Linked DNA regions of Homo sapiens. The protein of the gene in region 1 purifies or fractionates together with the protein of each later gene. This does not show direct contact. Each region holds a gene or a part of one and is shown in the gene's direction. Other genes may lie near its edges. The genes, in order: SLC35F1, ACSL6, SPTLC2, GOLGA5, HACD2, SEC62 and SURF4.

What was found.
Region 2: the proteins of SLC35F1 (region 1) and ACSL6 purify together in Homo sapiens (affinity purification with mass spectrometry; one large-scale study listed by BioGRID and IntAct). This does not show direct contact.
Region 3: the proteins of SLC35F1 (region 1) and SPTLC2 purify together in Homo sapiens (affinity purification with mass spectrometry; one large-scale study listed by BioGRID and IntAct). This does not show direct contact.
Region 4: the proteins of SLC35F1 (region 1) and GOLGA5 purify together in Homo sapiens (affinity purification with mass spectrometry; one large-scale study listed by BioGRID and IntAct). This does not show direct contact.
Region 5: the proteins of SLC35F1 (region 1) and HACD2 purify together in Homo sapiens (affinity purification with mass spectrometry; one large-scale study listed by BioGRID and IntAct). This does not show direct contact.
Region 6: the proteins of SLC35F1 (region 1) and SEC62 purify together in Homo sapiens (affinity purification with mass spectrometry; one large-scale study listed by BioGRID and IntAct). This does not show direct contact.
Region 7: the proteins of SLC35F1 (region 1) and SURF4 purify together in Homo sapiens (affinity purification with mass spectrometry; one large-scale study listed by BioGRID and IntAct). This does not show direct contact.

The regions. Positions count from the first base shown.
Region 1 is NC_000006.12:118,147,887-118,152,310, forward strand, and holds part of SLC35F1 (solute carrier family 35 member F1), read left to right. Parts: intron 1-4,424. UniProt on the Homo sapiens protein: Putative solute transporter.
Region 2 is NC_000005.10:131,948,933-131,953,042, reverse strand, and holds the end of ACSL6 (long-chain-fatty-acid--CoA ligase 6), read left to right. Parts: 3' UTR 1-3,070; downstream 3,071-4,110. UniProt on the Homo sapiens protein: Catalyzes the conversion of long-chain fatty acids to their active form acyl-CoA for both synthesis of cellular lipids, and degradation via beta-oxidation.
Region 3 is NC_000014.9:77,553,541-77,557,964, reverse strand, and holds part of SPTLC2 (serine palmitoyltransferase 2), read left to right. Parts: intron 1-818; coding exon 819-924; intron 925-2,445; coding exon 2,446-2,665; intron 2,666-4,424. UniProt on the Homo sapiens protein: Component of the serine palmitoyltransferase multisubunit enzyme (SPT) that catalyzes the initial and rate-limiting step in sphingolipid biosynthesis by condensing L-serine and activated acyl-CoA (most commonly palmitoyl-CoA) to form long-chain bases.
Region 4 is NC_000014.9:92,807,805-92,811,304, forward strand, and holds part of GOLGA5 (golgin subfamily A member 5), read left to right. Parts: intron 1-1,495; coding exon 1,496-1,715; intron 1,716-2,449; coding exon 2,450-2,573; intron 2,574-3,500. UniProt on the Homo sapiens protein: Involved in maintaining Golgi structure. Stimulates the formation of Golgi stacks and ribbons. Involved in intra-Golgi retrograde transport.
Region 5 is NC_000003.12:123,529,247-123,533,670, reverse strand, and holds part of HACD2 (very-long-chain (3R)-3-hydroxyacyl-CoA dehydratase 2), read left to right. Parts: intron 1-4,424. UniProt on the Homo sapiens protein: Catalyzes the third of the very long-chain fatty acids (VLCFA) elongation four-step cycle (condensation, reduction, dehydration, and reduction).
Region 6 is NC_000003.12:169,993,806-169,998,229, forward strand, and holds part of SEC62 (translocation protein SEC62), read left to right. Parts: 3' UTR 1-4,424. UniProt on the Homo sapiens protein: Mediates post-translational transport of precursor polypeptides across endoplasmic reticulum (ER). Proposed to act as a targeting receptor for small presecretory proteins containing short and apolar signal peptides.
Region 7 is NC_000009.12:133,369,057-133,373,480, reverse strand, and holds part of SURF4 (surfeit locus protein 4), read left to right. Parts: exon of another isoform or gene 1-2,559; coding exon of another isoform or gene 2,560-2,605; intron 2,606-4,424. UniProt on the Homo sapiens protein: Endoplasmic reticulum cargo receptor that mediates the export of lipoproteins by recruiting cargos into COPII vesicles to facilitate their secretion.

The DNA.
Region 1 (4,424 bases):
GCAAAGATACCCAATTAATGATAAATTTCTGGAGGTGTATATTTTCTTCTTGCCTAATAATCTTCTTACATATAAGTCTAATTAATGCTTGAATGTGATAAAAACCTTTCAGCAAAGAGCTTATAGAAGTCAATGGCCTAACTTCTGCAAACAAGAATCTTGTCAAAGAACATGGTAGAACACGCTTCTCCCACTTTCAAGGGGTATTGATTTTAGTCCAGGCAGTATACTTAGGTGTTCATTATGTATGCATGTTTGAATTCATATGCTGACTCAGATCTGACATGACTTTCCTGAGAATAGTTATCAGAATGAAGATGTCGCCACAGAAAAGTTGATGTGCTGTAATTCAAGATGATAACATAATTGTTTCACTTTTGTGGCAAAGAATTACAAGCAATATGATTATGTAACACTATGTTGAAATTCTTCATACCTTTTAAAAGAATGTATTCTTATAACTAAGAGAAGAAAACAAGATTAAGTTTATGCTTTATTTTAAATCTTACTATTTTGAATATCTAATTTGTAACACAAGTTTACTCTCAAAATTCTAAAGTCTGTTTCTTTAATAGAACGAAGTGCCGGTGGTAATGGTTATGTCAGTCTTTATGAATACAAGCTCTATTATAACAGGTATTTAGCTTCCAGCAGCACTATTTTTCTTGAGACTCATGCATTTTTCATTGTCTAGTCATTCTGAGTTTAAAGTGGATAGGATGTCCTTTTAAATGCATAAACAAAGAAGATGAAAATGTGTATCATAGTCTCCTCTCCATTTCTGCCACTAAAATTATAGGAACTATGTTTCTTATGTTAGAATGCATCTGGTGTGTTATTCCATATACTACATGAATAACCTACAGCTCGCTGTACAAAATTCCAACCGGCACCATATTTAGCATCATTTTTGCAAGATAGCACCTTACCAGGCTTGTTCTGAAAAGCACCAGAAAATAGCTTATTAATCTCAATGTCTAACTGGCAGATGGAATACAGTAAAAAACAACATGATTTTTGTCTTTCAGAGCTAGTAGTTTTTCAAGGTAAGATAAGCAACCATCTTCCAAATCTAAGACTTTGCCATTTTCATTTACAGATATTTGTTTACTCATAAATTTGTTCACTCTTTCATCCTGTGTTTATTGAGCATCTGTTTTCTTTCTGTCCAGCAGTCCTCAAGGCACTAGAAACAGAAAAGAATAAAATACATTCCCTTCTTTTCAGGAGCTTATGAGCTACACAATATGGTGAGTGCCAATAGTGATAGGGAAATGCAGGTGAGGACACTTGCCTCACCCTTGGGAGCAGGGAGTGGCTAAACAGAGGGTCTCTGAAGAAGACATTGTCATAAGGCCATGAGGAGTTAGGTGAAAGGACCACAGATCTACCATAGCAGTTATCTAAGGAAAAAATATTTAGAAGGGATAGTGCAACAGTAAATGAACTAAAGAGATCCTAAGGCAGAGAGAGCAGGGAGAACATTTTTGTACAACACATCGCCAAATGGATTTGTCCTGTGCTAATAGAGAACGAAAGAGAATTTGATCAGGGCAAGATGGCAGGGCAGGGGGTATAGTTAGCAGAGTGTCAACATTTAGGCATTTAGGTTTATTTCTATTTTTATTTACTGATTTATTTGGTGACTCCAGGAACTAGCTCAGATGTGCAGGCTGCAATAGCTACAATATCTAGCTCCCTGCAGTAGGAAAAAGACTCATGAACTAATCTGATAAAAGGTTCCTTTCATTCCTTCCGGTTTTACATGTCGTGCTCATTAGCATGACGAATAAAACCATAATTTGTATTCTCCATCAAATCACACCAGCAGCAGCTGAATGACATGGCCATTAATTAAAAGCAGAAATTGAATACAGCAGACTTGATGTTTTGTTTGACTGAAGAAACAAGAATAGATTTGTATTGACCTCTTGTTGAAAGGCACACATTACAGATATCTTGATGGAAGAGTTTTCATCAGAGGGTCAGTCCCAAACTTGTTTTTGTCTTTAACTCCTCTAGAGTATTTCTGGAAACCAACCACTTAGGTTTCTAGCTGTAAGTTCTTGCACTCAATCAGGACACACAGTATATTTTTGCCACCAAAATAGTAGTATAGCATAATAATTAAAAAGTTGAGATTTGGAACCACATAACCTAGTTTGCATCCAAACTCTTCCCCTTGTTAGCTCTGTGACCTTGGGCTGCTTGCGTAACTTCTCTAAGCATCAGTTAACTTATCTATAAAATCGAACAGTAATAATAGCTGCCTTATAAGGTTTTTATGAGGATTAACTAAGATAGTATGTGTAAGTCTAAGCTCATGGCTTGGCACATAGTAAGAACTTACTAAATATGAATTATTATTGTTGTTTTAGCTTAATCGGCTCCATTTTGTACTAAGTTATTTGAGGACCTAGCTCCCAAATCTTAGTTTTGTAGCTCCCCAGTGACAAGGACTGTGTCTTGTTCATCTTTGCATGCATAGTGTGTGACATATAGAATGCTATTTTATACTATATTGGCGCATATACATAAGAAAGACTAAAATTGTATTCTCTTATATAACTAATCTGTCATTTATTTGTGGTGTGATTTTGTTCAGGAAAGGCATAGCATATTGCCAAAGTTTTTGAACACTATAGTTGTAATTTATAGAACTGCAGGAATCCATGTCATAGCAATAATTTTCACCCTTCTTGTCCCAAAGAGATGCACTCCATACACAGCATTCTCCAGGAGACATACTCAGCATCAAGAACAACTCTTATATATTAGTTGTAACTCTATTCATATTTCTTCCATTTAGGAATGTAAGTTATTATGCAAATAATCAAGAATGACCCAGTGATAGGATAAGCTAAATTAATTTTTAAATCATTTTAAACATTATTATTTTAACTATCATTGATATTATGTTACATGGTGACTATATCAAATTCCTTCCATGAATTTTTTGAATTCTTCAAAATTCTGCAAAGTCAACATCTCTAATTTCTCACCATTTCCTTTTCACTTAGTCACTACTAGCTATCCCCTCCATGAAACTCTCTGTTCTCTTGGTTTTCATGACACCAATACGGCTGTTATTCTCCACTCAACCAAAACTCTTAAAGGATGGCAGTGACTACAAATTATGTCTTGTCAGTCCTCATTCTCTCTACCCTCTAAGCAACATTCAGTATTACAACTATTCAATCCATGAATGTCTCTTTCCTTTTGGTTTCCTTAACACCAAAAAACTCTCTTGCTCTTCCTCTTAGCCTTCTAACCACTTCCGACTCCAGTGATGTGCTTCTTCTCCCTCACCCACCTCCAACCTTGGGATTCTGCAGATATTTCCCAAGGCTCTCTTACTTTCTCTCCTACTCTCCCTTTCTTAGGGATATTATCCATTTCCAGTATTTTCACCATCACTTTTATGAGTATAACCTCTGCATATTTATCTCCTGGTTGACCTCCCTATCCCACTCTGATCCCATGCTACTAATGCTGCTGGATCATTTGGAAGTTCATCTGGCAACTCAAGTTCAATATACCTAAAATATGTATTGTTTCTCCACTAAAACCAGCTCCTTATCATTATTTTTGTCAGTAGATATTATACTTATCTTAGGCAGTCTTAAAAACCTTTAATTTTTTATAAGAGGTGGGGTCTTGCTCTGTAGCCCAGGCTTGAGTACAATGGTGGAATCATGGCTCACTTGCAGCCTTGACCTCCCAAGCCCAAGCAATCCTCCTGCCTCAGTCTCCCAAGGAGCTGGGACTACAGACATGCACCACCACACCTGGGTAATTTTTTTAATTTTTTGTAGAAATGAAGACTCACTATGTTGTCCAGGCTGGTCTTGAACTCCTGGATTCAAGTGATCTTCCTGCCTTAGCCTCCCAGAGTGTTGGGATTACAGGTGTGAGCCACTGCGCCTGGCCTTTAAAATCGTTTGAGTTAATTCTGGTACTCCTTTTTACCTCTACCTTTCTTTCTTTCTTTTTTTTATTAATCACCCCCTTTATTTCAATAAACTGTTTCTTGTTGCCTACGCCTCCTCTGCACTGTCTTTGAATCCCTCTATTTTCTACTTCCTCTGAATGGTACTGCCTGGCTGTAGACACAGTGAAGAACATGGTACAGGCATCACAGTCCAGCTGAGGCGAGAGGTATAAAGGCATTAGTTTCAATACAATGAGATAGAAGTAACAAAGAGATGCATTCCAGGGAAGAGAAGACGGAACACTTCTCAAAGGGAGTGACATAGAAGCCAAATCTTGAAAGATACATAAGAATCAGACTGGCAAAGGCGCAATGAACTTTTTGGAAATAATAACTTATACAAGGGAATGCAGACACAGAAGACCATATCTCACTGCTGAAGTGCAAGTAGCTCTGTAAGGCTGAAAGTGCTTCATGGAGGAGTAATAAGGGA
Region 2 (4,110 bases), on another chromosome or scaffold:
TGCTGGGGTCTTCTAGTCTTCCATTCCCAATGTGCCCATGCTATGCCTGGAAACCCTATATGGTTGTAATTCTGAACAATTTCACTTTTTTTCCAGTAAGAATATCAAGGCAGAAGGTGGGAAGGAGGGGACATTATTTCCAGGGAAAATAGTTTTTCAACAATATAACTTTGATAAACCTCTTTAAAATGCCCCAAGAAAACTTTTTAAGTCCATAGACAAAGAAATACTGCCTAATGGCATAATTACATTCCTAAAATCTTTAAGCGTGCCGAAGTTTAACCACTAAAACCTCCTTTCTTGCATTATGTATTTAGATGCACCCTGTATTGGGGTGTCAACAATTTCTTATAATTAAAGGCCAGATACCATGGACAGCAATTAAGTTCCAAGCTATAGATTGTGCCTCTGAAAAAGGCATGGACCCCAGGAACGTGTTTTTCTTCTGTAGAGACAAGACTCTAAAAGCATATCAACAATCCATATGCAATTCATGTGTTAATTTAAAATGTATGTGCTCAGTGTTTGTAGTCTAGAAGCTCCTTTCCCTTGGAGGAATGCCAAGCAGTTTGCAAAAATAAATGCTGTTAGTTAAAAACCACATAATCACATGGGCCTACTGAATAAATATGCATCAGTGATTATATACTTATATTTCAGTCTTGTCAAAAGTGAATCACTGTTTCATTTGATGTATTTACCCAGTCTTTTTATCCAGTTTTTCTTGGGCATATTCTCTCTGAAGACCCACTGTTGCACTTCTAAATTTGACAGTTAAGAAATGAGCTAGTTCTATACACACTGATTTTTAAAGGCGTTTCTGAATAAACTAATACTTAAAATGTCCAAAGTCACATCTGTACAGCATTAGATTTTTATATTTAATATATATTTGACTAATTAAAAGTGAAAGTTGTTACCTGAACTGGATATTCATACTATTTTAAGGGCAAGTTGCTTACATTTCAATAACAACAAAAAAAGAATCTGTTTCCCATTGTCCTCCTACTCAACTAAAATTCATAGTTGGCTTTAAGCCCAAAAGAATTTTGAACAATGTGACAGAAACAAGTAATGTAAAACTTATTTTGTTTTATTTATACTTTATAATAGTTAGATATAACAGATTATGGACAACTTAATATTTCTTCTTTTTGGCTGGGCGCGGTGGCTCATGCCTGTAATCCCAGCACTTTGGGAGGCCGAGGCGGGCAGATCACGAAGTCAGGAGATCGAGACCATCCTGGCTAACACAGTGAAACCCCGTCTCTACTAAAAAAATACAAAAAATTAGCCGGGCGTTGTGGCGGGCGCCTGTAGTCCCAGCTACTCGGGAGGCTGAGGCAGGAGAATGGCATGAACCTGGGAGGCGGAGCTTGCAGTGAGCCGAGATCCCGCCACTGTACTCCAGCCTGGGCAACAGAACGAGACTCCGTCTCAAAAAGAAAGAAAAAAAAAAAACAAAAACAAGGTTTCTTCTTTTTGCCACTTAAAATATCTTATATTTCTAGATTTCCAGGTCTATGTGGAAATCATCACACTTGGGCCAATAAATGGGTTAGTTCAGATGTGCTGAGAAAAGTAAATAGTGTACCCTAAATATCTTGCATGTACATTTATCTATTTCTCTGTTTAATGCCACTTAATTTTGTAAGAAATGAGAAATGAAACCCTATGTATCAGTGGAAAAATCCTTCTTGCTTCAGATTTCCCAACTTTATTCTGGAGGAGAAAAAAATCTGTATTTCTCATTAACAGAGATAGAAAAAGGTGATGTACTTACGATGGTCACATTCATATTGGGCATTGGATCTATTTAAGCCTAGAAGTATAACAGATAATCAGTTCCTTAAGTGTAAATATGTTCTTAAATGTTTGGCCTTTTTATCTGTTATTCAAATGTATTAGTAATTCTCATATTTTGCAAACAGATCCTTTTGTGTATATTATAAAATATATACCAAATCTGTTTTTCCTTTTGCTGTGGAAGATGTCTTTATATAATATTGAGACTTCCCTTGCAAATGAGAGACGGGACTCTGGTCAGGTATAGTGTGTAGGCCTAGCCCCATGTATTAGGAACTCATAAACTCAGAAATCCAAGGATTAAACATTTTATGTCTCCTTCATTTATGCAAGTCATGCTTTCATTCTACATGTAGTTAAAACTACAAGTATGAGAAAAAATAGAACTTTCCATTGGAATTTTTTCCAATCAGGTAATGTTTTAGCAACTTGAAATCAGCACTTAATTTGATTGTATTACCTATCAAAGAACCAATAACCTTTCCTTTTTCTGCAGTAAAGAAAATGAAATATCCTTTATTTTCCAAATGTATGAAGCACAAATGCAATATAGTTATTTAAAATATAAAATACTTTAAAATGAATGTGAAGAATGGGAAAATATATTTTTGCATGAAAACAGACTACTTACAAATGTGCTTAATATCTCAGGAAAAAAAGAATGAATAACCGTATATAAAATTGGTAAACTATAAATTGGCTGTATTTCCTTGCCGGTTTTAATTTTAAGGAAGCATTTACATGAAAAGAAAAAAGGATCCTAGTAGTCTGAATTTCCTCTCAAGTATGCTAGAAAATACTTTCTATGAATTTACAATTAACTGCAATAAGAAGTGGGTTAGCATTCAAGTAAGGTCAATACCCCAAATGAGAAACTCTTCAGTTAGAACACATTAGTGGTTGTAACACAGAGGCAGTAGATAAATATTTGAAATGTGAGCATTTCTAAACTTGGTACCAAATGGAAAGGGTTTCATGAGGTGACAGTGGCTTTTAAACATTCATTTGACCGATTATTCTAATTTTCCTTGTTAAATCATTGCAACAGTTGCATGGGGGAGAATGGATATTTTTTGAAGAATTGCTTATTCCACTTTCAATTTTTAAAAATCGAGGGGATTAAAATATTACTTTTTAAATATGCATAAAAGTATCTTAACTGTAATTACATTTTCAGTTGCTTTGTTATAGTAGCATGCATATTAAATATAAAATGCATTTATGAAAATTTTTGTAAAAAATAAAAGATTTTTCATTTCTCAAAGTTGCTTATAATTACTATTTTATATATTTGCATAATATAATACCCTCATGTGAGTATATTTGGTAATTATCAATCACAGTTACTGCTTATGATAAACATAGTACCAAGCTGCATTACCAATCAGTATACTTTACATCCGTACTCTACGTCCTCTGTTAAAGTTCCACAAACTCCAAGAAATTATGGTCCATCCAGAGAAGAGCTCCTTTGCTCAAGCCTCTGTTGGAATTTTTGCTATTGTCAGATATCTCCTGGATTTAAATCATTTTTATGAATACATAACAAATAACTGTCTTCAAATTTTCCATGATGGTGGCCTTTAAAATATAATTTCCATGTCTTTTACTCATATTCAGAATAATGGATACAATTTCTTAAAATAATGAATTCTGCTGTGTCCAAGATAGACAGATTCTGCCTTCTCCATATGTTTGCTATCATCCATTCCTCCCTATTGTTACAGCTATTAGTGTAGTTTGTGCCACCCTTATCTCTTGTCTGGAATATTACAGTGCTTTCTTAACTAGCCTTCATGTTTCCATTCCAGCATCCTCAAATTTCGCCATCCACATTTCAGCCAGGGCAATCTTTCTAAATTGAAAATCTAGATTGAAAATGCCACTTTCCTGCTTAATAGTCCTTCAGTGACTTCCCATAGTTTCCAGGATAAACTTCAAACTCGCTGGTTCAGCACACAGGGACTAGCATCTCTTCTACTCCCTCCTCTATGGAGCCTCGGCTCCAATCATATTCATTACTTTTGTAGTTCCCTAAAAGCATCATACTTTCTTGTGCCTACCTGCCTTTACACATATAGTCCCTTTCTCCTAGAATGCCCTTTCCTCTAATTCCCCTAACTCCAACCATTCATCTTTTAAAACTCAGATTCCAGCATCCTTTTCTCTGAGAAGCTTCCCACGTGGTTGATTGGTTGATGGTCCTTTTGCCCCACCCCCACGTAGACTGAGTTGCTTGAAGTTTTATGCCCAGTGCGGCTCTGGCTGATAGCAGATGCTAAAGAAATGTTAAGGAAAATCCCC
Region 3 (4,424 bases), on another chromosome or scaffold:
TCATTTCAGGGCAGGTATTTTAAGTATGAAATCTGTAGTGTGGCAACAATGGTCTTCAAAGCATTTGTCTTTAACAAGGAAATTATGATCATCATTAATGGCAGTAGCAGCCAAGTTGTTTCCAGGCCCATTAACCACCATAAGAACCAACAGAGCCACAAGAACTTGGTTGTTTATGGACAACTGATGAAGTCAAACATGGAACAATTTCAACTGATTGTCAGGCTTGCTTAACACACAGACTTATACATGCCCCAGACGGGTGTATTTTTAACCCAGTACCAAAATAAAACTCTTTAACAAGCGTTTATTGAGTACGTCCTGGGTGAAAGGAAATGGAGCACGCACTGTGAAGTTTTTTTACGCCTTGCGTTTGTTTTTTTAGGAGGAGTATGTGTCTGTGATGGTTTATTCACACTCTCTCGCTCTGTCTTTTTTACGCATTTATTTCCGAATGACTCACTGGGATTAGAGATACAGTTTGATTCTGTATTTTTCGATAAACACACAGAAGCTAACTTAATGGCAGGGTATTTAACATGAGACACTGGTCATTTTATAAGGAAGCTAATGAACTGAGTTAGCCACCACCGTCCTTTAGTCAAGTTTCGATGGTTTTGAACATTTGTTACATTTTGGATTTCAATTCAAGGTGGCAATAATTCACCTATTTTGCCCTGCTTTTTTCTGCCCAACTCTAATTATGTCCTTTGCTATCTGAGGCATGGTTTCTGAATGAGAAATATATCTCTGCATTTCCGGAATAAAGTTAGGAAAGAGGAAGATGCGGTATAACTGTTCTTTTTTGTGCTCTGTAGATATGCAAAGCCTAGAGAAGCTATTGAAAGATGCCATTGTTTATGGTCAGCCTCGGACACGAAGGCCCTGGAAGAAAATTCTCATCCTTGTGGAAGGAATATATAGGTAATCCTGCTTTATTATTCTTACCTTTGTGACTTGGCCCCATGAAGTCATAGAATTTTTTAACTGAAGGGAACATTAGTCTATCCCCCTCTGGAAACTAAGGAGACAGTGTTTATAAGTCGCTAAAATACCTGGAAACAGAGTCAGCATTAGAACAGAAGTCTTTTTGTCTAGTTCTTCGTTATTCTTTCCATAATACTACATGGTCACCAAATCCCCTTTCTATTTGAGTCTTTTATTTTTCTAGTTTGTAGAGGGAACCTATATGTAGGGGCAAGAATTGGAATATATATTTTAATATGTCAAAACAAATTACACACCATTTAATTTTAATAAATATTTTATTTTAGGCTGAGTGCAGTGGCTCACGCCTGTAATCCCAACACTTTGGGAGGCAAAAGTGGGAGGTCGCTCGAGGCCAGGAATTTGAGACCAGCTTGGGCAACATAGTGAGACCCTGTCTCTGTAAAAAATAAATAAAAATTAAAAAGAAATATTTTATTTTGGTTAACCTTTACAGCTTTTACACGTATTTTTACCACCTAATTTTTTTTGTTCTTTTGTGTCATTTTAATTGCCTGTGCAACGTGATGCAAAGTCTCATGTTGCCTGTAATTACAAGCTTTAGAAGAATCTGCTGTGACCTTAATTATTTTTGTCGTGAATTAAGATTGCTTGTGTTTGGTGCTTGTTTTTTGTTTTTTGGTGGTTTGGGTGGCTTTTTTTTTAAGATGGAATCTCGCTGTGTCACCCAGGCTGGAGTGCAGTGGCGGGATGTCGGCTCACTGCAACCTCCGCTTCCCGGTTCTCCTGCCTTAGCCTCCCGAGTAGCTGGGATTACAGGTGTGTGCCACCAAGCCCAGCTAATTTTTGTATTTTTAGTAGAGACGGGGTTTCACTGTGTTGGCCGGGCTGGTCTCGAACTCCTGACCTCAAGTGATCCGCCTACCTCAGCCCACCAAAGTGCTGGGATTACAGGTGTGAGCCACCGCGCCCAGCCAGTGCTTGTTTTAAAAGTCCAGTTTTCTTTCCCCTAGTCTTTTGCCTTGCCATGGCTTCATCTACCTTTGTCAGTTTAAGCCACAGATACAGTTGTCAGACCATTTAAAACCCAATAAACTCAGCCGGGCAGGGTGGCTTATTCCTGTAACCCCAGAACTGTGGGAGGCCAAGGCGGGTGTATCACTTGAGGCCAGGAGTTCGAGACTAGCCTGGGAAACATGAGGAAACCCTATCTCTACTAAAAATACAAACATTATCTGGGCGTGGTGGTGGCGGGCACCTCTAGTCCCAGCTACTTGGGAGGCTGAGGCACAAGAATCGCTTGAACCCAGGAGTCAGGGATTGTAGTAAGCCGAGATTATGCCACTGCACTTCAGCCTGGACAATGGAGCAAAACTCTGTCCCAAGAAAAAAAAAAGAAGCAGTAAACTCAATAATAATGAAGTGCCAAACTCCCAATTTTGATTTAAAAAGTCTCAGTGTATATGTGTATATATATATTTTTTCATGTTTTGCCAGCATGGAGGGATCTATTGTTCGTCTTCCTGAAGTGATTGCCCTCAAGAAGAAATACAAGGCATACTTGTATCTGGATGAGGCTCACAGCATTGGCGCCCTGGGCCCCACAGGCCGGGGTGTGGTGGAGTACTTTGGCCTGGATCCCGAGGATGTGGATGTTATGATGGGAACGTTCACAAAGAGTTTTGGTGCTTCTGGAGGATATATTGGAGGCAAGAAGGTAAACGAGCCATGAGAATGAGCGATTAGAGATAAAGTCACTGGCAATTAGATTTGGTACCTCAGGCCTAGCAGATGGGGCCCTGAACTGGGATGTCCGCAAATTTGCCTCTGGTTTAGGCTCATAATACCAGTGAGTGACTCTAATGTCTCCTCACTGAACTAAAGGCTGGTTCTGTTCATTGTTTGTTGTTTTCTTATTTGAGCTTCTTTCTAAGCTACATGCTGATCTGAGATATAGAATACCCTCTTGTGTGAAAGAACACACAGTGGTGCTCCCTGCCCGCCCCAGCCTTCTGTTGGGTTTGCATTGTGCTCACAGTTTCAAAAACAGTGGGGTTGTCATGGGAGCCCATGGGAATAGCAGGTCACCTTGCCCTTGGACACAAATATATCATGAGTGAACATGGAGACAGGAAGCAAAAAAGTTGTGCCAGCTGTGGGGTACTACAAAGCATTGTATTTTTCAATTTTTAAACTATGAAGTTGCCTTTTCTGGGTCTTTGTAGTCAGAAAAAAATCATACGGTGAATTTTGATGCAGGTAAGAATCTGTGGTGTGGTCGAAATGGTGAACCATAAAGACAGAGGCCTGGGTCTGAATATTTCTCGGCTTACTTTGTTAGACCTCAGGGAAAACATTTAACCTCCCAGTTTCCTTGTCAGTAAAATGGAGATAAATATGCCCAGCTTGTAAGATTGTAGTAAGGGTTTAAAAAGTAATATATGTCCATGCTACAACGTGGGTGCACCTTAAAAACATTATGGTAAGTGAAAAAAGTCACAAAAAGTCACATATTGCATGTTTTAAAATATGTGATACCTAGAATAAGCATAGAAACAGAAAGTAGATTAGTAGTTGCCGGAGGCGGAGGGGATAGGGAAATGGAAAGTGAATGCTAATGGGTATGAGGTTTCCTTTCAGGGTTATGGAAATGTTCTAAAATTAGTGGTAAAAGTGGCACAACTCTGGATATACTAAAAACCACTGAATTGTGCTTTAAAACGGTGAATTCTGTGTATGTGGCTTATATCACAATGAAGCTGTTATTTTTAAACGTTGATTGCAATGTTAGGGAAAAAATAATGTATGTCAGGTATTTGTATATGGCACAGAGGAGGTGCTCATAAATGTTCTTAATTTTGCTTCACCACTCAATATTCGGAGTATTAAAGAATGGTTATGCTGGGCACAGTAGCTCACACCTGTAATCCCAGCACTTTGAGAGGCTGAAGTGGGAGGATTACTTGAGCCCAGGAGTTCAATACCAGCTGGGCAACATAGTGAGACTTCATCTCTACAAAAAAGTAAAAAAATTAGCTGGGTGTGGTGGTGGCACATGCCTGTAGTCCCAACTATGGGGGAGGCTGAGATGAGAGGATTGCTTGAGCCTGGGAGATCAAGGATGCAGTGAGCCGTGATTACACCACTGCATTGCAGCCTGGGCAACAGAGCAAGACCCTATCACAGAAAAAAAGGTCATTCTTTTAATACTTGATTGCCTGTTAGAGAGAACTCATTTTCAGTGACTTTTAATCAGCTTTGATAGATTTTTTTTTTTTTTTTTTTTTGAGACCAAGCCTTACTCCATTGCCAGGCTGGAGTTCAGTGGCACAATCTTGGCTCACTGCAACCTCCGCCTCCTGGGATCAAGCGATTCTCCTGCCTCAGCCTCCCAAGTAGCTGGGACTACAGGCACGTGCCACCATGCCCAGCTAATTTTTTGTATTTTTAGTAGAGACAGGGTTTCACCGTGTTGG
Region 4 (3,500 bases), on another chromosome or scaffold:
GTGTGGCTGAGAAGAAAACGAGTGACAAAATTGCTGCCTTGGTTCCTGGGGCTAATTAGAAAGGAGTGAGGGGATGGTGGGAAAAGTTTTGCCAAGCCATGGATAGAGCCTAGAAGAGAGGAAAGGGAAGATAGTTGAAGACTCACTAAGCTAGGCGTGGTGGCTCACGCCTGTAATCCCAACACTTTGGGAGGCCGAGGCGGGCGGATCACAAGGTCAGGAGTTCAAGACCAGTCTGGCCAACATGGTGAAACCCGTCTCTACTAAAAATACAAAAAAATTAGCTGGGCATGGTGGCGCGTGCCTGTTATTCCAGCTACTCAGGAGGCTGAGGGAGGAGAATTGCCTGAACCCAGACCCAGGACCCAGGAGGTGGAGGTTGCAGTGAGCCGAGATCGTGCCACTGCATTCCAGCCTGAGCTACAGAGCGAGACTCGTCTCAACAACAACAACAACAACAACAAAAACAAAGTACTCACTAGTCAGGCTGACTTTAGAAAAAGCTTTACTTTACCCACACTAATTTAGACATAGAAATAGAGCTGTTTGGCCAGGCACAGTGAGTCACGCCTGTAATCCCAGCGCTTTGGAAGGCTGAGATGGGAAAATTGCTGAAGCCAGGAGTTCAATAACAGCATGGGCAACAGAGTGAGACCCCTGGGCTACAAAAATCAATTTTTTTTTGTTTTAAATTAGCTGAATATGGTGGTGTACACCTGTAGGCTGAGCTACTTTGGAGACTGAGGTGGGAGGATTGCTTGAGCCCAGGAGTTGGAGGTTGCAGTGAGTCATGGGCCATGATCATGCCACTGCACTCCAGCCGGGGCAACAGAGTGAGGCTCTGTCTCATGTTTTTGGGTTTTTTTTTTTTTCTTTAAGAAAGGTGTGTCTCACTGGAAAAAAAAAAAAAGCTTTGAGACCCTATAAAGTTTGATTCAGTATTTTTAAAATGTTGTGGTGGCTAACTGCAATTACATATGGTATGTGAGGGTATGGAAATGCCATTGTATTCTGAAATAGAGCACTACTTTGCTCTTTTTGCATTGATTTCCTAGGTCAAAAGAATAACATCTTTTTGCAACAGTAATTGAAAGCAATAGATTCTTTTCTGTGTTTAGGTTTTGTTTTGTTCTTACTAGGATGTACCTTTGATTTGGATTTGCATTCCTTTCCCTGTCACTAGCAGAACTTTACAAAATATACTCTGCTATCTATTAATACTAGTTTCGGCTCCCAGATGCTTTATCATATAGAAACAGCATTGTAGAAGAGCAGCTAGCTTCACGCCCCTTTCTAATCAATTAACTATAATCTAGCTGTGAATATTGCCCTTGAAAAGTGGATGACCCTTTGGGGCAAAGAAAATTGAAGACGTGTAAGTTCCCAATTTTGTCAATAAGGAAAGTACTAAAGGCACTCAAAGTAGAAACTGTACGTGCTCTGAGAAAAATGTGTTTGGTTTTGCTTGTATAGAGAAATTTAAATTTTTTAATAGAATTAAACAAAGCAAGAGCAAGAGTTGAAAAGTGGAATGCTGACCATTCAAAGAGTGATCGAATGACTCGAGGACTCCGAGCCCAAGTAGATGACCTGACTGAAGCTGTGGCTGCAAAGGATTCCCAGCTGGCTGTACTGAAAGTGAGACTCCAGGAAGCTGACCAGCTACTGAGTACTCGCACAGAAGCATTAGAAGCCTTACAGAGTGAAAAATCACGGTAGGTGATTCTATGAATAATGAAAAAAATGAGCAAGTAATGGTAAACATTGTAGTGTATCCACTTATGAAACTTAGCTTTCTTGGAAATTTACAAGAGGGAATATTTCTTTTGGTAGTGTTAGAAATGTGTATGATTAAAATGGATTCATTGGCTGGGCGTGGTGGCTCAAGCCTGTAATCCTAGCACTTTGGGAAGCCGAGGCAGGTGGATCACCTGAGGTTGGGAGTTCGAGACCAGCCTGACCAACATGGAGAAACCCCGTCTCTACTAAAAATACAGAAAAAAAATTAGCCGGGGGTGGTGGCACATGCCTGTAATCCCAGCTACTCAGGAGGCGAGGCAGCAGAATCACTTGAACCCAGGAGGTGGAGGTTGCAGTGAGCTGAGATTGTGCCATTGCACTCCAGCCTGGGCAAAAAGAGCGAAACTCCATCTCAACAACAACAACATAAAATGGATTCATTGTTTGAACCTTGAGATGCATTGTTAGCAAATTCTGAATTTAAAAGCATTTGTTGTGTCATTAATCTTTCATTATACGGTATGTACTTAATATTTGGATGCCTAAAAATGTAGATTATGTTCCATTAGAAAGGAAAGATTTATCTAAGAATATTTCAGTCAAATTATCTTTTTTGTGCTTGACTAAAGCTGACGCTCTAAAAATTATTCTGCCTTATCACTTGTACACTGTAGACATGAGTTATTTCACATGATGCATTTTCCTTTAGAATAATGCAGGATCAAAGTGAAGGTAACAGCCTGCAGAATCAAGCTCTGCAGACTTTTCAGGAGAGACTGCATGAAGCGGATGCCACTCTGAAGAGAGAGCAGGAGAGCTATAAACAGATGCAGGTTAGAATGAGAGACAGCAGATTCCTATTGTTACTTGGACACGGAAAAAATGACTTTATGCTGTTTCATAGCACATTAACTGTCTAATATAATTCTGCAATGCATTTCAGAAAATTCTGTTTCTGTGACAAAAATCAGATATTTGAAAATTTAGCTTGATCCTTGCTAAATGTATTTAATTTTATGTGTTGAGAGACAATTAAAATAGTTAATGTGCATTAGAGATATACATCTTTTACTTAATTTTTGCAACAATCATTGTCATTATTTGATTAAATGCTAATGGTTGGGGGATCGTATTTGTTTTTTATTAATTTAAGTTTTTCTGATTCCAGATTAATCTGGCTCATTTATTTCAGGAGAAAATTGTATGTAATATGTAAAGAGTTTTACTCTTAGATGAATATTTGCATTTAGTTCAGTCCCAGCCCTGTCTACACGTGGGAATCACTTGTGTGATACCTTGTGCTGTCTGAGCTCCATATGCAGTCACATTCCATTGTATGAGGTAGGGACTAGGTATTGACACTTTGGTTTTAGAAGGTTCACAGGTGTATCTAATGAGCAGTCAGGGTTGCAAACCACTGGTCTGGGCTAGCTTTTCAACAGGTGAAAGTAATTCAGTCCTGAAAGTAAATATCAGGTAGTGTGTGTCTCTTAATTTTAACACAATATATCCAAAGTATTAATTATTTCAATATGTAGTCAATATTAAAAGTTATTAATGAGATATTTTACATTATTTTTTGAATACTGGTTCTTTAAAATATGGTGTAATTTACACCTATTTATTTACTTATTAAATTGGAAACAGTTGATCAGCTAGTATCAGACCAGACCTAGTATCCAAGTGACCAGGTTCACCTGGGAAATTTCTTAAAAAACAGATTCCCAGACCCATCTTGAAAATTCCAGTTTAGTAAGCTT
Region 5 (4,424 bases), on another chromosome or scaffold:
GTCTGGTACATCTTTTTTGAATGAATTTTAGGCTAGTGAGAGTTTACTAGTAAGATTCCAGAATGTCTCTGTCATCTGTAAATAACCAATTTAAGTAGCCAACAATAAAAATATCTGTAGTTTTGGTTTTAACATGCTATGCCATTGTGTTCAAATAAGAAGTAATGGCATGTAAATGCAAAAACAGTGGGATTGACTGCAAGAAGTGCCAGAAAGAAAGAGGATCTATCTGCCAGGCACATGCCTGTAATCCCAGCACTTTGGGATGCTGAGGCGGACAGATCACTTGAGCTTAGGAGTTCGAGACCAGCCTGGGCATCATGGCGAAACCCTGTCTCTGCTAAAAATACAAAAATTAGCTGGGCGTGGTGGCACATGCCTGTTGTCCCAGCTACTTGGGAATCTGAGGCAGAAGAATGGCTTGAACCCAGGAGGTTGAGGCTGCAGTGAGCCATGATTGTGCCACTGTACTCTAGTCTGAGCAACAGAGTGAGACCCTGTCCAATCAAAGAGAGAATCTAGTCTGTCTTGTCTATCTATATTCCACATTCTACAACGATTTGTGGTAGCTCATACACAAAATATCACACTATAGTATGCTTCAGATCTAGCGTGAAGGTTTCTGGCTACCAAGTTAAAGAGGGTGACAGAGTTATATAATTCTTATTATTGGAAAGGAGCAAACCTTTCTTAACATTGAGCTCTAAAACAAATTTCCTACCTGTATGAGAGGCTTTGAGTGATAGGGTGGACATTATACTGTACACCATTCCTACGGCAAATAAGGTAATATTAATACTGTTTGACAGTCTTTTTTTTTTTTTTTTTTTTTTTTTTGAGACGGAGTCTCACTCTGTCACCCTGGCTGGAGTACAGTGGCACGTTTTCGGCTCACTGCAAACTCTGCTCCCGGGTTCAAGAGATCTCCTGCCTCAGCCTCCCGAGTAGCTGGGATTACAGGCGACTGCCACCACGCCCGGCTAATTTTTGTATTTAGTAGAGACGGGGTTTCACCATGTTGGCCAGGGGCCAGGTTGGTCTCAAACTCCGGACCTCAGGTGATCTGCCCACCTCAGCCTCCCAAAGTGCTGGGATTACAGGCGTAAGCCACTGTGCCTGGCCTTAGTTTCTTATGAAATTCACCTGATAATAATGATAAGCCCAACTTGGTGATGCCAGCTCTGTTCAGAGCTGAGATAATGCCCATCTATGTGGCCATCTGTTCTTTAGCTTAAATTCAGGGATAGAGCTCTTGGCCTTTTGACTGGTCCAGTAGAGCAGGCATTTCGAGATTGTGCTGTCAGGTGAGGGCCTGAACTGCTGTTTGCTGGGTGACTGGTTGAAGTAGTTGTCTATGCTACAGAGAAACTAAGTGACAGTTGGTCTGAATGACATGATTTGGGGAAAATTAAGGTGTCTAAGTAGGCGAGTTCACTGGATAGAGAACGGTAGAAGCACCTGCAGGCAAGGCCAGAAACATCTTGACATCTACTTCAATTAGAAAGTATTGATCAGCTTTTTGTTCACTACTTATTAAGATTTAAATTTACTGCCAAAGGTGTGCTAAGACAGGCACTTTTGTATATTGCTGGTGGGAGTATAAATTGGTAATAAACTTCTTAGAAAGCAGTTTGGCAATACATTTCAAGAGCCTTAAAAACATTCATGCCATTTGACCTAGTACTTCTACTTCTGGGAAAATGTCCCAAGGAAATAATCCTTTTTTTAAAAAAAGGTCTAAGCCTCGAATTTTGAGTGTTATTTGTAATGCTTCATTACTTCATTTATAGTATCAAGAAATTCGAGGCAATTTAAATGTCCCACAGAAGGAGAATAAACAAACATATTAACTCAAAGGAATATCATGATTTAAGCTAAAATCTTTTGAAGAAGAGAAGGAAAATTCTTAAAATGTTAAATGAGAAAAGCAAAAACAATATAAACAGTAGAAGTTAAACTGGTTTAAAATATGCTTAGAGGAAAAGACTGGTGAGAAATACACTAAATAAATCGTTGTGTGTGTGTGTGGATACTAAAGCATTTTTAAGAAAAACACTGTTGACCAGGTGTGGTGGCTCACTCACACCTGTAATCTCAGCACTTTGGGAGACCGAGGCAGCGGGTGGATGACCTGAGGTCAGTTTCAGATGACCTGAAACTCCGCCTCTAACAAAAATACAAAAATTAGCCAGGCATGGTGGTGCATACCTGTAATCCCAGATACTCAGGAGGCTGAGGCACAAGAATCACTTGAACCTGGGAGGCGGAGGTTGCAGTGAGCCAAGATTGTGCCACTGCATTCCAGCCTGGGCGATAGAACAAGACTGTCTCAAAAAAAGAAAAGAAAAGAAAAACACTGTTAATTTATGTATGGCATTTTTGAAAGGGAGACAAATACAAATTTATATTCCCTAGAGAAGGGTGATTTATAGTGGAGAGGGAATAATTAATAAACCTGTGTTCAGCTGAATTGCAGTTTTTGCCCCTAGACCTTCTAGTTCCATTTGTTTAAAGTTACTCTTAGCGCCTGTAATCCCAGCACTTTGGGAGGCTGAGGCGGGCAGATCACGAGGTTAAGAGATCGAGACCATCCTGACCAACATGGTGAAACCCCGTCTCTACTAAAACCACAAAAATGAACTGGGCATGGTAGCGCGTGCCTATAATCCCAGCCACTCGGGAGGCTAAGGTAGGAGAATCACTTGAACCCAGGAGGCAGGGGTTGCAGTGAGCCGAAATTGCGCCATTGCACTCCAGCCTGGGCGACAGGAGTGAAACTCCATCTAAAAACAACAACAACAACAACAAAAAGTTACTTTAGCTGGGCATGGGGGCTCACGCCTGTAATCTCAGCATTTTGGGAGGCCAAGGCAGGAGAATTGTGTGAGCTTAGGAGTTCGAAACCAGCCTGGGCAACATAGCAAGACGTTGTCTCTACAAAAACTTTAAAAAATTACCTGGGCAGGCCGGGCGCAGTGGCTCACGCCTGTAATCCCAGCACTTTGGGAGGCCAAGGCAGGCGGATCACAAGGTCAGGAGATCGAGACCATCCTGGCCAACATAATGAAACCCCATCTCTACTAAAAATATAAAAATTAGCCGGGCATGGTGGCTTATGCCTGTAACTCCAGCTACTCGGGAGGCGGAGGCAGGAGAACCCCTTGAACCAGGGAGTTGGAGGTTGCAGTGAGCTGAGATCGCCCCACAGCACTCTAGCCTGGCGACAGAGCAAGACTCCGTCTCAAAAAAAAAAAAAAAAAAATTACCTGGCACACCGTGTGGTCCCAGCTACTTGGGACGCTGAGGCGAGAGGATGGCCTGAGCCCAGGAGTTTGAGGCTGCAGTGAGAGATATGATGGCGTCATGTACTCCAGCCTGGGTGACAGAGTGAAATCTGGTCTCTTTTTTTTAAAAAAAGAAATCCTTTAATTCTCAGTTCTTTTCTTTTTACTTTTTGTTTGTTTGTTTGTTTGAAATCAAAGAAATCAAAGGCTTCCTCTATATGGGTGCTTTCCTTACAGGTGCCTAGGTAGTTATTGCTTCAACCTCATTAATCCCCCTCTCCCAGCAAAATGAAACTTAACATGTTAATAAGCAAAATATGATTTTCAAAATAGGTCTATTATAATAGAAATATGGAAGAGTACAATTCTGCCATTTTCCTAAATATTAAACATTATTTTACAAGAATGGCTTAAAACATAAGCCTTGTTTTGCAGTATATGAGCTTTCCATCTTCAATATATTTTTTTTTTTAAATTGGTTTCTAGAGGAAATCCACAACTGCATATTGTCCCATCTAAGTGTGATCTGGCTAAATATATTCACTAAATGTTTGACTTACTAATTAGCTCTGTTAGCTGTATTACACAATTATATAACCAGGTTTTATAATTCATTTATACATTTATTTATGTATTTATTTACTTTTACTCATTTATTCTGAGACAGGACCTCACTCTGTCACCCAGGCTGGAGTGCAGTGGCATGATCACAGCTCACTGCAGCCTCAACCTCCCAAACTCAAGCAATCCTCTTGCCTCAGCCTCCCTAGAACTGGTACTAGAGGCGTACGCTACCATGGCGAGCTAATATGTTTTTTATTTTTAGTAGAGACAAGGTCTCGCTATGTTGTGCAGGATGGTCTAGAACTCCTGGACTCAAGCAATTCTCCTGCTTCAGCCTCCCAGAGTGTTGGGATTACAGGCGTGAGCCACTGTTTCTGGCCATTTATTTTTTTAGTAACAGCTTTGTTAAGATATAACTAACTGCCAGGTGTGGTGGCTCACACCTGTAATCCCAGCACTTTGGGAAGCCGAGGCAGGCGGATCAGCTGAGGTCAGGAGTTCAAGACCAGCCTGGCCAATATGGTGAAGCCCTATCTCTACCAAAAGTACAAAAACTTAGCCAGCGATGGTGGCACA
Region 6 (4,424 bases), on another chromosome or scaffold:
AATAAAACATTTTATTTTAATTGTTACTTATTATTTAGATATTTCTCAACACTTAAATTCATAAAATTAAGACCATGTAAGGGTATGTTTTTAGAGAAATGGAAGTTTGAGTAACCCACAGAACATCTGTGATCTTTCTACAGCAGCTTCAGTTTTGTGCCAACATTCCATGTATTTTGAATATGAGCAAAAACTGATCTTAAGAGCAGACTTAAAGTAGCTTTGTACGCCTTAATGTTCATTTTGATTTATTTTAAATCTTTACATTCAGAAATGAGATACTGTATTATCAGACCAGGAGGCATTGCTGTGAAAGATAATTTCCTATTCTAAAATATCAAATTTAAAATAAAGATAATGAAAGAAAACATAAGAGAACTATTGGACTCTAATTGCTTTGAACTAGTTTTGCAGTTTGACTTTACGTCTTATACATCTTAGTTACAAGTCTTTGGAAACTCTTGTTTACTTATGAGCATAATCATTCCTTGGAGTTATACTAACTAATAATGAATATTAAATGATTTTTCTTCAGTCACAGTGAGAGCATCTTGCTTTGTGGTTGAAATAGGTAGTGTATGTCAGTCTTTGCTTTAGGCTGTTTCTCATCTAAGTGTTTGAATTAAAGATGTTAAATTTTTCTAATTGTGAAAAATATGTTTTCTGTATCGACACATTTTATTAAACTTGGCTTGATTGCTTCTTTATAGTAGTCCCTGTAAGTGGACATAAATGTGGCTATTTGATGTTAATGCAACTATGTCAAGGCTGCAATCACTTTAATAGTTTCTTTTTAGCAAATAAATGTTCATTGATGAAGTGCCTGGGTATTTTCCCGTCCCATTTGCAGAGCTCTACTACTTCATTTCCACAGTAAGCATATATATAATGATCACTTCTGAGTTTATCACCAGTAACATTGATACCTATTTTGGGGTATAAACATGGTGTTTTTCAGAAATAAAAATTATTTCATTAACCTTTACTATTACTGTGATAATACCCAGGCACTCAATATTCATCCTGAAATTTTTTATAATATATGTAATTTGTCTAGTCTTAAAGACATTTGGAGCATGGCCAACAGGAAGGTCAGCTTCTTACTGATGTGTGTGGATTCTTACAGAATGTTAGTACAAATTTTTATAAATATTTGGTGATCCCTGGGGGGAAATATCATTCTTACTATGGTTAGAAAGTGAATTAGAAATTTCAGCTCAGTTTCTATTTTACTATTCAAGTTGTGTACTTTAAACAAATATAAAAATCAAAAGGCTGCCTCTATTACAATCCTCAGTGGAATAGATGGCTATCTTTCTTGGCTAACATTAAATATTCTTGTACCAGAGCATGGAAAATCGTTTATAATTGTTAATAGAATGGCGATTTTTTTTTAAGAACTTCAGATTTGCTATGCTGCTGTAAGTAGAAAGCATGAAGCTTTTTGATCATGTAGGGCTTATTGTAGAGGGTATCAATTGGCCTAACTAAGCAGGATTGAATTTACCAGAGGCTAAGTTCAGATAGTAAGAATAATGCATATGTGATTGTTCTTAAAGTCAATGTATTAAATAAGGTATTTTTCCTTTTCCCTCTTACTGGATTTTTCAATTTTCAAACCATATGGCCTAGGTAACTTTAATTGAAATAATATAGATTTAGTTGAATACTATTCAGGAAGTAATAAATTTTAATATATCACATTGAAATTATGCAGTGGTGATGAATTTTGGTGTTTCCCCCCTCTTTCTGGTTTTACATCATGAGGATCAGTTAGCTGCTGACAAGAAAAGTCATCTTGTGTCTTTTGTAAATTGAATTTTTTTTTTAAATCTATTAGGAACTGGAAAACAGCAAGTATGGTTGATTCTCATTATTCAAGGTAGTTACGTTCTATAAAGTCACTGCGAACACTGAATTAGCAAATATAGAACCTAGGGGAAATACAAGGCTAGATTTCTGCAAGCCACTGGTCACATTTTCATCAAGCAGTCAACATGTAAATTTCTGTTGTAAAGACACCTTATTTAATATAATCGATTCATTAACATTGAAGTCATGACCAACAACACTGTAACTCATGCCTGAATGAAGCTTATCTGACACATAAGCTTCATAAGGCACACAACAGCCTTTTTACCCTTAGGAACAGCTTTTTGCCCTTAGCACTATGCTTGGGGGCCATTTTAAACAGTGAAATCAAAAAAAGAACAGAAATGCAAAAACCATGGCATTAGCGTAAAAAGGACACGTTTATAGTATGAAAGCTGGAACATGGCCTTGTTCAACCTCAGCTCAGAATATGTGTACAGCAAGTTTTTTGCTGTACCACAAAATTTTAGGTTAGGCAAATTCACAAATACGGAATCCATGAATAACGAGGATCAACTGTACTTAACTATATTTTAAAGCTGTGACATTTATCTACCTGGTTTATGGAATAGAATTTATTGCTGAATCATGCTCCAGTATTTGAGTGATGTTTTAAATATCCTATGTCTGAAAATAATTCCTCCTAATTGTGTGGTAATTTGCTTTTACTGTTTCCACAGTATTTCAGGTCTTTGCTCATTCACTCAGTAATACTGAGCACTTACCATGTACCAGAATTTTACTAGGCACAACCATGAATAAAAATACAATTCTCTTGCACCATTAAATAGTGTGTTAAGTGCTACGGCAGCAAATTGCTACATGTGCTGGATATCTCTTGTTTTCCCCTCCAGCTCCACTCTGCTCTTGCCCACAAAGCTGACCCGAATGGACCACAGCAGTGGGCTCCTATGCCTCCTGGCTTCTGAGTGGGTTTGGCCAAGGAGTGTCCTGGCCAGAGATCAGAGGATGGTAGGGTGCCTATTCTCGGCTCTTCTCCTGGGGTTGGGGGGCTGCCTTAGCAGCCAAAGGTCACTTCTCCCAAACTCCTTCCCTGCTTTCCAGGTTGCCAGTCCCTGCACTCTTCCTTTCTGGCCAAGGATGATGTCAGTTCTGCTGCTACTAGCCTGGAGTTGCAGAAGCTACTGTGCTTCCTCTTTGGGTAGCCTATACCTATACTTATCTCCTCATAATATCTTCATGTAAAGAACCATCTGTTTCTTATTGGAATCAAGACCAATACCAAGGAGAAATTCCTAGGGAACAAAAATTCCAATGAGGAATTGACCTCTTTGTCAGATCCTTATCACCAAACATTAGAAAAGATCTCATAACTTTATACAGCATGTTGTAAGCATTTTGATAACTAAAATCCTGTTCTAGTGAATGTCATGCAGATAACTACACAAGGAGATTAATTTAAATTTGCCTTCTTTGGCAAGCCCTTAAACCAATGGCTAAAGCAGTTAGTTGTGAGTTTCTGAGTAGGTCCCAATGCGTTTATTTCATTTGTCCAACCTAGCACAGAGATCCTTTGATACTTTAATTGCATGGCTTTTCCAATCAGACGAAATTTCAGTCTGAGAGAGGACATATTTTCTGAGGTTTATAGTTTTAGGATTGTCCAAAAGGCCTATGATCTCTTCTTAGCATGACAGAAAGAGGGAAAGATAAGTTAAATTTCAAGGGGGTCATATCATCACACTTTGGTCTTATTTCATTTTCAATGATTTCCTAGATCACTTTAACTTTTTTGTGTCATGGACTCCTCAGAATAATGGGTTTTTTTTGTTTGTTTGTTTGTTTGAGATGGAGTCTCACTCTGTCACCCAGGCTGGAGTGCAGTGGCGAAATCTCAGCTCACTGCAACCTCCGCCTCCTGAGGTTCAAGTGATCCTCCTGCCTCAGCCTCCCAAGTAGCTGGGATTACAGGCACATGCCACCACACCCAGCTAATTTTTGTATTTTTTAGTAGAGACAGGGTTTCACCGTGTTGGCGAGACTGATCTTGAACTCCTGACATCAGGTGATCCACCTGCCTCGGCCTCCCAAAGTGCTGGGATTACAGGCATGAGCCACCATGCCTGGCCAGAATAATGTTTTTAAATGCAGAAAAGGAAATGCATGGGGTTACAAGGGAAACGAATTACACTGAAGTGTAAGCTACCAAATAATTTATGATGTGGTAGTTATAGGTGTGCATTTAATAGCCAGATCTACGAGTGGATGTAATAACTGCTATGATGTTGAAGTAGCATAAAACATATATTAGATATCTGCAACAACTGTGATGTAACATGAAAATACCTGATTTCTGTTGACAAAGTTACTGCTAGTACAACTGTGGATTGTTGTCTGCACTCGTCATTGAAGGAAATACTAAATTTTAGTTTTAGGCTAGTGAAATTAAAGTTAATTTTTCCCATCCAAGTTCATGTATCTTCTGAATTCTATCCGTGAATCCCTTAGAGGTCTGTGAATTGTAGGTTAAGAACCCCTGCCCTAGCTAATCAGATCCACCAATGTTTCAAATAGGACTATAACTTATTCAA
Region 7 (4,424 bases), on another chromosome or scaffold:
CAGGCCCACGCCACCACGCCCCGCTAATTTTTGTGTTTTTAGTAGAGACAGCATTTTGCCATGTTGTCATGTTGTCCAGGCTGGTCTCAAACACCTGACCTTAGGTGATCCGCCTTGGCCTCCTAAAGTTCTGGGATTACATGCCTGAGCCACCGCGCCCAGCCTTCATCATGTATTCTGTTATGTTTTAAATGAAAGAAGCAGTAGCTTGGAACTGGAAAGGCTCTTGAGGGGGCACAGAGTCGACCTCTCCCAGGTTACTGAGGGGAGGCCAAACCTGCTCAGGCTCCTAGACTTGCCTGTGACCAAGACCAAGAAAAGCCGGGTCTTGGTCCCCAGCGCCCCCAGCCCCTGGTGTTGCTCTTCTGGCACAAGTCAAGGGAAGAGCACTAGCGGGTGAAGGGGCTGCTCACATACAAAACCCAAGTGGGTTAGGACCATATCTGTAAGGCACCATATCTGTAAGGCAGCGCAGGCTGCCGCCGTCAGATGATCTCCTTAAGAGTCCGTCTAGGTGGTGGCAGAGCATGGCTGTGGGAGCTTCCATGCCCTTTTGTGGGCAGCTTGGGAGGGCAGCTACTTGTACTCGCCCAAACCCCAATCAGACAGATGCAGGCAAGTAAACAGGGTTCGAAGTCAAAATATGGCTTCTTGTGGACAGAATCTGACCAAGCCCAGGTGGGGCTTTGTTTCTCTTTATTCACATAGTACTTAAAGCTGCCAGACCAGGCTTTTACATGAAAATGACCTAATTTGAAGCCGATAGAGGATTACCATGGAAGTCACTGATCAGATAAAGTGACACATCCATTTTTTCACATCTTCAGAAAACAAGAGCAAAACTGAAGTGACAAGATTTGACCAGAAAGTGTGGGCTGCTGAAAGCAAGACCTAAGTAAGCTTAGTTTCCCAGGCCCAGTGTCTTCCAGTATTATGACAATGACATTAAGTCTTTCACTGGGCCGGGTCCATGATAGACATTCCTTTTGTGAACTTCTTGACTGTAGGAGGTTGGCCAGAGCGTCACCATCTTCAGATGGGCAGAGGGAGGTTGGCTGGCCGCACTGGCTTGTGGTGGCCTGGAGACTGAGTCCGCATCCTGTTACCCCAAAGGCTGGGTTCCTCACTGCTTGGTTGACTGATCTTTCCTTCTGGCCTGCAGAGGCTGGTCCACGGGGACGAGCAGTCTGGTTAGTTTCTGCTGGCAGGCTCCCCACAGTTGCATCTCTTGTCTCTCTGCCTCTGGCATCAAGCTGCTTGCTCTGGCAGCCAGGGACAGTGTCCTCTTGCTCCCAGGAGCCATGCTCTGTAGAAACTGCTGAGACGTGCTCTATGCAGGAGCTTGGCATTTGGAAGCCATGGGAAGGGTCCAGAAACTAATGAACTCAGCAATCCAAACTAATGTCCATGCCTGCAGCTGCTCCTCATTGCCTATTAGACACTCTGTAAAATGTAGCTTCTAAGCAGTTTATACCCATAAACAGCAATATTAGCACTTAATGGGTTCTGCCTGGTGGCTCATCACCAAGGTGACAGAAAAGCTGCATGGGGCCTTCCTCTCCAGTGTGACCTTTGGTGTTTTTAACCTGTCCTCAAGAGTGGCAGAGCTAGTCCTGGGCCCTAGGAGCTGGCCTCGGCCCTAGTTGAAGTGCTGGGGAAGCAAGGATAGGCCTGAGGACCCCTGAACTTGCAGGTGGCACAGGCACTGTGAGGGTCCCGATGAACACCATGCTGGTGACTGGTGTGGCAAAGTCCTGGTGACAGTGGCAGGCTCTGTCATACCCTGCCCTATATCATGAAGGAGTGGGGAGAGAAGGCAAAGAGGAGCTGACTCACTTTTCTTTGTGTGATGATCTTAACGGGAGGTTAAAACTCACTCTTCAGGGGAGTGCGGGCGAGGAGCAGAGGAGGTTGTGGTTAGCGGGGCTCCTCCCAGAACATGGGGCCCAGTCGTTCTCAGTTACGTCTTTCCTATAGTTGGGATTTTGATCACACAGTTTTTTAGTAAAGCCAGGCCATCATCTCCCACATTGGGCTGGCGACATCCTTTCTGGCCCTGCAGGGTGCAGTGTGAACCTATAGAGCAGCATGGGAGCGGGGCTCGGGGAAGTTCTGGAGCTGCAGTGAGCCAGTGAGCTCGAGCCAGCTCTGACAGGCTGATGTGAGGGAAGCCGCTGGGCCGCAGGTGCTTGTTTCTAGGATGTGTGGGACCTGAGTTGGGCTTTGAACAAGGCAGCCCCAGTCCTTGGTGATCAAGGAAATCTGACCTGCCTTTTTCGTCGATGTTCACATTCACCACGAATTTGCAAGCTGCTTTCCTCAATTTCTTTCTGTCCTGAGTGTGAAGAGAAAGTGGAGTTTTCTGTGTGGCGTGGGAGCTGCAGGTGGCTGTGACAGTGATCACTGGATGCCCAGGAAGTCATCTCAGGGTGGATATAATTAATTACGTTTCTAAAATCCCCTTCAGTCGTCTAAAATAACCACCCCTTTGAGAGAAATATCAGTCTTCCTGTTAAGCCCCTCAGATGCTGTCACTGCTTATGAACCATATCCTGCTTGATGGCGCGGTTCTCGGAGAGACTTAATGAGAAGCTTGGCCACAGAGGTGAGCTAACTGTCATCTTCTTCCTGCAGCCTGCCAGGTCAACAGCCACCTCTGGCTCTGCTGTCGCAGTTCTCTAATGGGGGGGAGGGGGACTGTCACAAGTTTTATGTGCTCGCCGTGTTTACACAGGTCACCTGTGTGCTGGCTACCAGCAATGGCCTTAGTGCCTGCAGTGCGGCTGCTCTTGTCTGTCCTGGGGTGCTGTGTGTCCTGCCTGTGTTGAGGGCTCTTCTCTGCTGTGCTGAGGGGACACTGGCTCTGGGACGTGTTCTAGAGTGGCATGACATGGTTCCAGTGGCCAAGTTGAAGTAGTTGTGACCAACATGCATGTAGGAAATAAGGTTAATGTTGGGCCTTGTCTTTAAACGTGGCTTTTTCAGTGTTCAGTCCAAACAGATGCTCATTAAATGGTGGCCAGTTTAGAGGAGACTGCATCAGCCTGACTTCAGCCTTCAGTGTGGACCAGGCTTGCCTTTGAAAACCAGGACAGCCAAGCAGTAGGTGTGCTCAGTTCAGAAGGCAGTACCTAGATTTTTGCATATTTTTCCCCAAAGCCAAGAGCTGTGTCTGTTTCGTCACCATGTTTGCGCAGGGAAGGAGGTGTGAATTGCCTGTCCCACCTTCTCTCTCTTTTTTGCTCTTTAATCCTCTTGACCCAGACACTCAAATTAAGAGTCGCAGACTCATTCAAAGAGACTTTTAAACACTGCCTCAATCTCGTGGGCTGTGCACGTAGATGAGCATGTTAAATGCAGGTCCTGCAACTGGGGGAGGCTTAGACCGCAGCCCATGGCTGGGCTGGTTTGCTCATCTCAGGCCAGTGAGTGGCTCACAGCTCTCATTTTAGAAGCAAGTCAGAACACCTCTGGTGTCTGTCTTGGGTATGGATTGCAGTCTACCTCTCTGCTGCTGTTGGGGTCCACGCCCCACACCCACACCCTGCCCTGGGAGTCCCACCACGGCTCCGTCTCATCTCAGAGGTCTGGACAGCCTCCTGTTGAGCTCTTCCTTCCCAGTGGTTGCTTTTCCCCAGGTTCAGATGAGATAAAGGCTTGTGTCCTTGCTGGGGCTTCCCAGCTGGGCCACGATGTGAGGCCATTCCTTGAGAGCAGTGGCACATCGTGTGCCACGGTGGTGTGCTTTCTCTCTTCCATGGAATATGGGTGATTACACTGTTGCTGGGCATTTAGAGAGCAACGGGGCCATGAGGCAGAACCTGGGGAGGGTGTGTGGCGTCACCTTTCCCACCACCCAGTGTGATGCAGGTTGCGTCACACTGTGCACATGGGCATCTTGTGCTGGTTCTCTGCATTGGCCCTAAAATTCACAGGGGAGTATTTGGGGCCTTTTTAAAAATAAAAAGTGAAACAAGGTCTTCCTCCTAGTAAAGTTGGAAAGCATCTTACCAACCATTAGTTCAGGTGGCCTCACTCTACTGCAGGATAGTAGAGACACTCTCAAAAAAGTAACTGGGCGTGTCCAGGTCACACGGTGTGCTGGCTGGATGGTACCAGGGCAGGATGAGATCACAGGGCCTCAGAACCTCCACCTGCACTTCATCTCCCAAACCCACTTGGTGATTCTCTGGGTATCTGTCGGTCACTGTGATTTCTCCCATCACTTCCGTGGAGTCAAAGGCTGAGTAAATGTGTGCAGAACTGACACTGCAGGGCGCAGTGGGTTTGGGGAGAATGGCCACCTGGCTTTGTAATCTCTGCCTCCGTTCTCTGCCACATGGGAGCCAATCTGCAGTGCTGACCTAGTCAGGGCCCCACCTGACAGGCTGGAGGGTGACCTGAACACCCAGGGGCGTGGTAAC